Linked DNA regions of Homo sapiens. The protein of the gene in region 2 purifies or fractionates together with the protein of the main gene of each other region. This does not show direct contact. Each region holds a gene or a part of one and is shown on either strand. Other genes may lie near its edges.

Region 1 (2,884 bases), on a different chromosome or scaffold from region 2:
CTTCAGCTGTGATACTCTGAGAATACAATGCCCCTATGTAGTGCTCGACTGGTAATACATAACCTGAATCTACCATGATAAAACATCAACTACAAGTCCAGGAATGAACTGCTCAATAAAATAATTGGTCTATACTCTTCAAAAATGTCAGGGTCAAGAAAGATTGAGACACTGTTTCAAGTTAAGAGGCTAAAGAGACATGGTGACTAAATGAAATGTGTGATCCTAGACTGGATCCTGTAATGGGGAAAATTACCATATAGGACGTTATTGTGACCATACATGAAATTCACTGGATGATAGATTAAAATACTGTGTCAGTATTAAATTTGCTGAATTTGGTCATATAATAACCTTATTTGTAACAAATACACACTCAAGTATTAAGGGGGGAAAGGGACATTATGTATATAATCTATTCTCAAACCACTCAAAAAAAAATGTGTGTATGTGTATATGTACAAGGGGTGGGGAAGACAGAGAAAGCAAATGTGGCAAAATGTTAAAGATTAGTGAATCTGGGTTTGAGCACATAAAAATTCTTTGTACTATTTTTGCAACTTTTCTGTAAGTATGAAATTATTTCAGGGTTTAATAAAAAAGCAATCACCCAAAACCAACCACCCCTTACAACAAAATCAACACACACACACTTTCTTCCTAAATTACAGTATTTTATTTAATATGCCTTTTAAAAATAAATGAGCCTTAGCTTATCAGGCACAAGTTTTTTTTGTTTTGTTTTGTTTTATTTATTCACTTACAGGAAATATAAACACAAATTCTAAAAGTGTGAAGTTGCAAACGACAGGCAAGTTCACATTTCAATTAATGTGAACTGAACAAGAGTTTAAGGTGATTTTTAAATACCTTCCACGTTAGAAAATCCTTCTTTCTTAAATAAGTTTTCATATAAAGCCAAGTCCTTGCAACTTAACGACGGTTTTACAGTCTTAAGTGATTTTAGAAAGTGCTCTTGTTTCACTGTAGTTGCGTCTAGTCCATTTTCTTGCAGAGCCAGCAAAGCAGCCTATTAAGAGACAAGCAATAGAAAACAATTTCTTTTGCTTTTTTTTCTTTGAGATGGAGTTTTGCTCTTATTGCCCAGGCTGGAGTGCAGTGGCACGATCTGGACTCACTGCAACCTCCGTCTTCTGGTTTCAAGCAATTCTCCTGCCTCAGCCTCCCAAGTAGCTGGGATTACAGAAGGCTGCCACCACGCCCAACTAATTTTTGTATTTTTAGTAGAGACAGGGTTTCACCATGTTGGCCGGGCTCATCTTGAACTCCTGACCTCATGATCCACCTGCTTCAGCCTCCCAAAGTGCTGGGATTACAGGTGTGAGCCACAGCGCCTGGCTTCTTTTCTTTTTTTTTTAACAATATATGGTAATACTTTAAACTCTGAATGGAAAATCTCAGCCTCACTTCATAGGATTCTAATTTTCATGTCACTAAAAACATTATGCTAAAAAGTTAAATAAGGTGATTAGAAATCCACTTTGCAGACCATAACCTCTTTACATTAATGGGAAAAAAGAAAGCATTAAATGAGAAGAAAGAAAAGGCAAGTTGCAGATTAATATGTATTTTATGAACCCATATGTATTTTTAAAGATGAGAGAATATCTTCCTGATCGTTAAGTAGGGAAGAGTCTTCAGCCAGCACTGATTATAAAGGAATAGATCAAACACATACCCTATGACCCAGCAATTCTCCTTGTAGCTAACTATGTTTACAAATAGACATAAATAGACACGGGAACTAAGAGACATGTACAAGGCTGTTCACAGCAGCATAACTCATAATAGCAAAAAAGTAGAAACCCAGATATTCCAAAATAAAAGAATGGATAAACAAATGTAGAATATTCATATACTAGAATATTATAAACTATGCTACACACAAAACTATGGATAAATTTCTTTTTAGGTTAAAGAACCAGACAGAAAATAACATATGCCACATGCTTCCATTCATATAAAGTTCAAAAGCAGACAAAACTAATCCCCACTGTTGTTAGTCAGGAGAGTGGTTCCCTTTTGTTTTGTTTTTTGTTTTTTTTTTTTTTTTTGGGGGGGGGGGACAGAGTCTTGCTCTGTCACCCAGGCAGAAGTACAGTGACACAATCATGGCTCACTACAGCCTTGACCTCCAGGCTCAAGTGATCCTCCCACCTCAGCCTCCTGAGTAGCTGGGACAATTTTTTAAAAGTTTTTGTAGAGACAGGGTCTCCCCATGTTGCCCAGGTTGGTCTCAACTCCTGGGCTCAGATGATCCTCCTGCCTTGGCCCCAACAAAATGCTGGGATTACAGGCATGAGTCACTAAGCCCAGCCAATAGTTCTCTTTTGGAAGAAGGTAGGTGACAGAGGTTGGGAAAGGGCCCAAAGGAAGATTCTGGGGTGTTTATAATGTTCTATTTCTTGACATAAGTAGTGATTATAAAAATGTGATCACTTTAATTCAATGAACTGTACCCTTATGATCCGTGCATTTTTCTGAATGTTATATTTAGTAAAAGTTTACGAAAAAGGGTATCTTAGAGTGGTTTACAAGGACCCGTGTGTCCTGGCCATTGTCTACTCCTTCAGCTTTTTTTTTTTCCTAAGAGACAGAGTCTCACTCTGTCACCCAGGCTGGAGTGCAGCGGCACGATCTCATCTTACTGCAACCTTCGCTTCCCAGGCTCAAGCAATCCTCCCATCTCCCCCTCCCAAGTAGCTGGGACTACTAGTCCCCCACGTAGCTGGGACTAACACCACATTTGACTAATTTTTTATTTTTTCTAGAGATGGGGTCTCACTGTATTACCCAGGCTGATCTTAAACTCCTGGGCTAAAGCAATCCTCTCGCCTTGGCCTCCCAAAATGCTGGGATCACA
Region 2 (7,701 bases):
CCAGAGCAGGTAAGTTCACCTTCCTGGCCTTACTTTCCTGATGTGTAATACGGAATTACTTCACAGTAGCATGACAGTATAAGACACCAGCAGTAGATACAACTATGATGACATTCCATGAGTTGGTATTTTTAGTTCTAACTGCTAAATTTGTTCTCTTTACGGGACAGATTTCTAATAAAGTGCTTGGTCTTAAAATACATGGTTGGACAGAGGTGCCCTATCCCTTAACTATGAGCAGGTGCTACCTTTTGGGATATTTATTTTAAATTTTAATACTTTGGTACTCAATTGTCAGTGTTCCATGGTGTGTATTTTTATTTTTGGGATTAGTGGGGGTCTAAAGGGAGAAGAATAGTCTCTAATTACTACCTCTTAACCTAAAGCAATTATTTTGTTCCTGGAGCAAGTTAAATCTTTGTTGGAAGGAGCTTTGGCCATATATTTTTTAGCATGCATTGTTTCTGTGCCCTGAAAGTACCTGAAAGGTTTTAAGCACAGACTCAGGAAAATGTGCCAGTAGAACAGGCCATCTCCAGGAAATTGGCTCTATTTGGGTCCTGACCTTCCCTTCCTCCCAAGTTAGCAGGCTTGTTCTTTCGCAAGGAATACACATCTTGCCTTTTTTTTTTTTTTTTTGCCATGTTTTCCTTTTCTTGGTCATGTATAAGCAATAAAGCTGTTTTTTGTTCTTCATCTTTCTTAACCCCAAATTTTCTTCTATGCCTTAGGCTTCGATGGTTCTTCCAACCCCCTTAATATGGCTTAGGGTGGTTTTTCAAAACCTACAATCCCCCATTTGCACTACTGGCCATGGAACATTTATTTCTAGTGTTCCTGCCAATCAGAGATCTCTATATTAAATTCTAAAATGGGATTAAAAGAAGAGTTGGAGAATTCACACTTATTGAGTAACTGATGTCATACAACCTGGAATTTCTGAATTCCAAATAAATAAATTTCACTCTTTGAACATTTCATCTTTTACTTTTTAGCACCAACAGACTTGATAACAGCCTGATGCTGATCTGACAATGGGTTGATAGCCTTCCCCCACTGACCCTTAAATCTGCTTAGTAACAAGTCCTTTGCTTCTGTCATTCTCCTGGGGGATGGCCTACTGCCCTCCTTTCTGTACAATCTGGGCAAACCGACTGGTGATGGCAAGAGTGGTGTCAATGAAGCGGTCTACACAGCTGGAGAGACAATTTTCAGTGCGAGAGTCTAGGCGATTCCCTGGCTTCTCCACACATTTATCCCAACATAACTCCATGAAGTGATGCACCTAAAAGGAAAGAAAAATAGTAACCATTGGGGTCTGCAGATAGGCCTAACTCTTGTTTATTAACTTCTCACTTTTTGACACCTGACAAAACCATTCTTTAAATCAACCACGGAGTCACTTTGGGCTCTTCTCTTTCTTCATTTCCTAATTAGTCACCAATATTGATCCAGATCCTCGTCCCTACAGATTGTACATTCTCAGGTAGGACTAATAACCTTTTATATTCCCCAAAGTAGCTAGCACCATTGTGAACCAACTAGGGAACCAATTAATTTTCCCAAACTATTGCACTCATTTTATTCCAAACCTATCCCCTAGACAAGGTAATTCTTCCATTAACCTTTTGGGGGTTATGGATCCACTCCCCAGAAAAATGCACATACAGGCACAGAAATTATGTGCACTGTCATTAGAATGTTCAGGGCCCAAAGATTTCTAGCCAGGGTTCTTGCTGGTCATCCGAGCACCCTCTTCCTCCCACCCAAAAGGAAAAAACCATTTTACCAAGAGCTTACTATTTGTGAGGCTGGGTACTAAGAAATCAGTTCTCTCTAAGGTCCTCAAGGATAGCTGTCATCACCTCCCATTTAAGAGGCGTGATTATGTAGTCCAAGGTCATGTAGCCAGCAAGAAGTCAGGCCGCGTTAGAACCATGTCCGAAGGGCTCCAAACCCTTGTTCTACATCCATAGTCTACAGCGACTACTTCAGAGTCCACCTTCCTCCGATAATGTTCTAGTCGTTTTCAAATACATTGTCGCATATGATCCTCACAATCCAGTGAGGCAGTGGGGTGACGGCGACACCAAAACCCACAGTGGATGAGTATCTTTTCTACGGGCACGTGGCCTGCAAGGAGCAGAGGGAGGATGAGAACCCAGATCTTTCGAATGCCAGCCCAGTCATGTCGCCGGCTAACTAGTCTCCCGTACCCTTGCGTCGCCCAAATCTTCCCTGTTTTACACCTTTTCTTTTCTCCACGCTACGCTTATATACCTGGCACCTGAGCACTACCGGTCACCAGGGACAGGAGAGCCATAACTTTGTCTTTCGTGAGGGGAATGGGATGCAGCCGGGATCGAGCACCAGTGAGCCGCCAGTGTACAGACCTCCGAGCGTGCCCAGGACCACCAAGGAAGGTGAAACTTCCTTTCCCTTCACCCTCCCCGTCCCCGCACCTGTGCAGTAAACTGCGCCTTCTGCTGCTCGGCGGCCACCAGGCGCTGCAACTCCGCTTCATCGGCTTCGCCCAGCTCCGCCATTGTTCGCCTCAGGCTCGCCACCTTCCGACAGCTGTGTTTGCGCATGCGCGACGGGTGTGCACCGCCTCTCGACTTCCGGTTCACCCAGCATTTCCTCTTCCCTGTTTTCTTTCGTCGTCGTGGGTGGGAATTGTCGCCTAAGTGGTTCCGGGTTGGTGGATGACCTTGAGCCCTCAGGAACGAGATGGCGGTTCTCTGGAGGCTGAGTGCCGTTTGCGGTGCCCTAGGAGGCCGAGGTGAGGGGTCTTCCCACCCTGAGGTGCTTAGCGTAGCCTCCAGCCAGGGAAGGGGATGGAAGTGAGGACTCATCTGCCGGGTGGGAGATCTCTTGAGGAGAAGAAAATACCGAAATCACAGCAATGACCACTGTAGTCTAGGGGTCCAGATGTTTACCCGAAGGTATATTTCACTTGCTGTGAGCTGACGAGTTGAGGGAATAATCAGAAAGAGAGCTCCCTCTGGAAGTCGCAGTCCTGATGAGGCTAATCCACATAGCAGTTCTGTTTTCTCCCCGTTCACTGTCCCTAGAATGCTCCCCACTCGCTCCCACCCTGAGTCGGGAAAGAGGGTTAGGAGCTTGCCCATTTCTTCTGGAGTTGGTGTGTTTGGATGTGGGAGTGGAGGGGGGATCAGTTCGAAAATCATTTAACCTGGGCATTTGTGTTACCTCAGGTACTGTAGTAATGCTAGGATACAAATGTGAAGAAAACGTAGTTCCCGCCCTCAACGAGCTTTCATTCTGATGAGGAAAACACTGTCATAGTAGTCCGGGCAAGATGAGGTCCTGAACTAGGAAAGTAGCACAAAGAAAAGAAGATTGTCTCAAGAACTGTTAAAGAGATACGCCAATAGGATTTGGCGATTGAATTTAGGGGAAAAGTCTCTCATGATTTCCAGATTACTGAGTTAGGTTAAAGAATGCCTGAGGTGTCATTAAATAAAGTAGGGAACATGCAGATGTTCCCTGGTCTTAACTTCACAGTAACCCCAGTGAAATAGATGCTATCTTCATTTTACAAATAAGATGTTATCCCCTATTTATTGTTAAGTAGCTTACCTATGGTCATTTAGAAAGTTTGTCAGTCCTGTTAAAGGAGAGGTTCTTATGATCATCCTAATGACTCTTTCCTCAGCTCTGTTGCTTCGAACTCCAGTGGTCAGACCTGCTCATATCTCAGCATTTCTTCAGGACCGACCTATCCCAGAATGGTGTGGAGTGCAGCACATACACTTGTCACCGAGCCACCATTGTATGTTCTCTCCATCGCTGCTGCTTTCTGGGCTCTAGCCATCTTTACCTTCACTAATGGTCATGCCTTTAGCAGGACTTCCTACCTGTAGGGGGGACTCTTGTGTCCAACTTTGTCAAATGAAGACCTAGTTTACACCTTTGGGCAGACAGTGCCATTATGGTTGAATGATGCCATTTATAATCATAGAAGACCTTCTAGCCTAAGTCTTTACAAATTTTTTTCTTTTGTTTTCTTTTTTTTTGAGACAGAGTCTCGCTCTGTTATGCAGGCTGGAGTGCAGTGGTGCGATCTCGGCTCACTGCAACCTCCACCTTCTGAGTTCAAGCAATTCTCCTGCCCCTGCCTCCCGACTAGCTGGGATTACAGGCGCCCACCACCATGCCCAGCTAAGTTTTGTACTTTTAGTAGAGACGGGTTTCACCGTGTTGGCCGGGCTGGTCTCAAACTCCTGACCTCCTCAAACTCCTGACCTCAGGTGATCTGCCCACCTCAGCCTCCCAAAGTGCTGGGATTGCAGGCGTGAGCCACCACGCCTGGACCACTAACTTACATTCATAAGGTGTCTGTTCACTTCACTGAACCAAGACTGGCTTAATTCTGTAGCAATACAGCAATTCTGTTTTTTATCCATCTTCTTGGATCTGTCTTCTAATCAATATGTAGGCATTGAGATACCCTTGTGCTAAAAGACTTCAAAAAACAGAGATAAAGCCTTCAAAAAACAGAGATAGCTTCTCTCAACTACTATTTTGATATTTTACTTCCTTTGTACTCAGAGTTATATCCTATATGTACACTGCCTGTCAGTTTGGGTTACTGTGTGGCATATGTTGAACATGAAAGATGTGTGTTTCTCACATCAACTTTTATGAATCTGGTCCTTTTTGTAGCTGGCTCCAAGGCTGCATCTCTCCACTGGACTAGCGAGAGGGTTGTCAGTGTTTTGCTCCTGGGTCTGCTTCCGGCTGCTTATTTGAATCCTTGCTCTGCGATGGACTATTCCCTGGCTGCAGCCCTCACTCTTCATGGTCACTGGCAAGTATAGCAATTCCAAATATAGTTGTCTGCTCAGTTTGTTTGCTGTGAGCTTGTCTTATGTATTATATATGAGGGAGAAGTTGATTGAAATGCCCTAAATTTGTTGAAAACTTTAAAATATATATAAAATATGTATATGCCTAGATTTATATATCTGCCTGCCTATTCAATGTCTTTCAATTCGATTTCCGTATCTAATAGCATTTTGAATGTAGCCTGTCAAACTGAATTTCTGATCTCCCCTAATCTGTTCCTCCTGCACTCTTGCCCCATCTGAATTAATGGCATTTCCAGTTTTCTCTTTGTTCAAGTCTAAACCTGGTAAGCTCCAAACTTGGTCATTATCCTTGACTCTAGTAGTAGTCTCCTAACTGGTTCCCATTTGTGTTCATTCCCAACACAGCATACCCAGTGATCCTGTTAAAATGTTAATTAGAATAAGACATTCCCCTTCTCAAAACCCTATTTTGTCTCTTCATGTTACTCAAAGTCAGAATTCTTAGGGTTGTCTGTAGACTCTACATGATTGAACCACCCTGTTTCTTCCCTCATTTTTAGCTGCTCTCTCTCTCATTCACACTGCCTTCCTTGAGATTCCTTGAACATGCCAGGGACATTCCAGGTCTCAGGGCTTCTCTTACTGCTTCTGCCTGAAACTCTTTTTCTAGCTATACACTTGGCTTGTTCCTTCATCTCCTTCAGGTCTTGAATGCCATTCTCTCAACAAAGCCTTCCCTAACCACTTATTCAAAATTGCAGTTTCTGTCCTGCCATTCCTTATCTCTCTTGCTTGTTTTATTTTTCTCAATAGTACTTACTGCCTTCTAATATACTACATCATCTGTTCATTATTTTATATAGTAATTGCTTCCTTGCATTTTATCACCCAAATGTATATCCCTAAATAGTATAGTTTATTCTTGCCTCTTAAAAAAAAAAAAGAGATGTATGTGGGTGGATTATTTTGTTATTTTTACTGTATTTGTTTGCTGTTGTGCCTCTAGAGCCTAGAACTACTCTCTGGTACGTGACATATAGCACTCAGTAAATACTTGCTGAATGAATGAGCATCCAGCGCCTGTTTGTTTGTTTGTTTGTTTGTTTATTTTTTGAGACAGAGTCTCGCTCTGTTGCCCAGGCTGGAGTGCAATGGTGTGATCTCAGCTCACCACAACCTCCGCCTCCCAGGTACAAGCGATTCTCCCTGCCTCAGCCTCCCAAGTAGCTGGGATTACAGGCGTGCACCACCACATCCGGCTAATTTTTTTGTATTTTTAGTAGAGACGGGGTTTCGCCATTTTGGCCAGGCTGGTCTGGAACTCCTGACCTCAGGTGATCTGCCCGCTTCAGCCTCCTAAAGTGCTGGGATTACAGGCGTGAGCCACCATGTCCGGCCCAGCTTTTGTTTATTTTATCTGGTATAGTTTGTATGACTTTCTACGTAATGAACCTTCTAAAATGAGGGTAAATGACAGGTTGGGTTCCTTGAGTTGTTCTTTTTAAGTTTTGCAAGGGACAATATGTTGTCATTGTGGGGGGTAGGGAGCCACTTTCGGATTGTTGAAACTGGAAGTACTTTGGAGAGTATCTTAACCAACTCTTTTATTTTACAGATTTGGAAACTAAGACCCAGGGAGGTTAAGTGACTTGTCAGAATCATTTTCTAGCTAGTGTTAAAGATTTTTTTTTTCTTTTTTTTTTGGGACGGAGTCTCACTCTCACCCAGGCTGGAGTGCAGTGGTGTGATCTTGGTTCACTGCAACCTCTGCCTCCTGGGTTCAAGCAATTCTCATGCCTCAGCCTCCCAAGCAGCTGGGATTACAGGCATGCGCCAGCACACCTGGCTCAGTTTTGTATTTTAAATCGAGACGGGGTTTCACCATGTTGTCCAGGCTGGTCTTGGACTCCTGACCTCAAGTGATCCTCCCACCTTGGCCTCCCAAAGTGCTGGGATTATAGGTGTGAACCACCGTGCCCAGCCTAAAGGGGTTTTAATTATCTGGTTTTGTAGGACTGGTTAGGAGAATGAGTTGTTGTTGTTGATGTTGTTTTTTAACCACACAGACCTTTCCAAATAAAAGATTCCAGTTGCATATGAAATATTAGATCACAAGTACAGTAAGTAATATTTCTCTAACATGTCATCCCTCTTGAAGGAGCTGTCTATAATGTGCTCCACTTCCTCAACACTGAGTCTCTTTTAGCCTGTATTAATTGGGGTCTTATCCCAACTATATAACTTAGGTTATTCTTACCAAGGGCACTGAAGGCCTTCATCTTTCCAAATCCGGTTGTCTATTTTCTGCCCTCCACTTGCTTGAAGTCTCAGCCGCCTTCAACTCAATTAACAATTCTCCCCATAAGTCACTTTTCTTTGGCTTTCCAGATGCATAGAAGTCTCCTCTGCCAGATCCTTCTCCTCTTGTCTGACCTCGAGATGACAAAATCTCCAGGGCTGAGTCATGGCCTTCTTAATTTCTCCATCTGTACCCTTTTTTAGGTGAGCTCAGATCTGACCTGTTTTTCTGAGCTGCAGACTTGTTTATCTAATTGTCTAATTGACATCCACTTGGATGTCTGATAGTTATCCCAGATCTAACATTGGCCAAATCGCTCTTTTTTCCCCCCAAATCTCCCTTGATTTCTCCTTTAAAACCCCCTTCTCAAAGCTATGCTCAAACTAAAATTCTTAGGAGTCATTCTAGATATTTCTTTTTGTTCTTACCCCACTTATTCCATCAGTTCTGTTCTTTCTTTAAAAAATAGTCTGAATCGGCCAGGCGTGGTCTCACGCCTGTAATCCTAGCACTTTGGGAGGCCGAGGCGGGCGGATCATGAGGTCAGGAGTTTGAGACCAGCCTGGC

The links.
Region 1: the proteins of TIMM8B (region 2) and AFG2B purify together in Homo sapiens (co-immunoprecipitation; 2 studies listed by IntAct, with this or other methods). This does not show direct contact.

Annotation. Positions count from the first base shown.
Region 1 is NC_000015.10:45,419,189-45,422,072, reverse strand, and holds the end of AFG2B (ATPase family gene 2 protein homolog B), read right to left. Parts: intron 1,031-2,884; coding exon 863-1,030; 3' UTR 658-862; downstream 1-657. UniProt on the Homo sapiens protein: ATP-dependent chaperone part of the 55LCC heterohexameric ATPase complex which is chromatin-associated and promotes replisome proteostasis to maintain replication fork progression and genome stability.
Region 2 is NC_000011.10:112,084,178-112,091,878, forward strand, and holds TIMM8B (mitochondrial import inner membrane translocase subunit Tim8 B), read right to left. Parts: upstream 2,580-7,701; 5' UTR 2,547-2,579; coding exon 2,463-2,546; intron 2,134-2,462; exon of another isoform or gene 1,790-2,133; intron 1,286-1,789; coding exon 1,118-1,285; 3' UTR 623-1,117; downstream 1-622. Other genes in the region: SDHD (succinate dehydrogenase [ubiquinone] cytochrome b small subunit, mitochondrial isoform a precursor), read left to right, coding at 2,731-2,782, 3,680-3,796, 4,690-4,834. UniProt on the Homo sapiens protein: Probable mitochondrial intermembrane chaperone that participates in the import and insertion of some multi-pass transmembrane proteins into the mitochondrial inner membrane.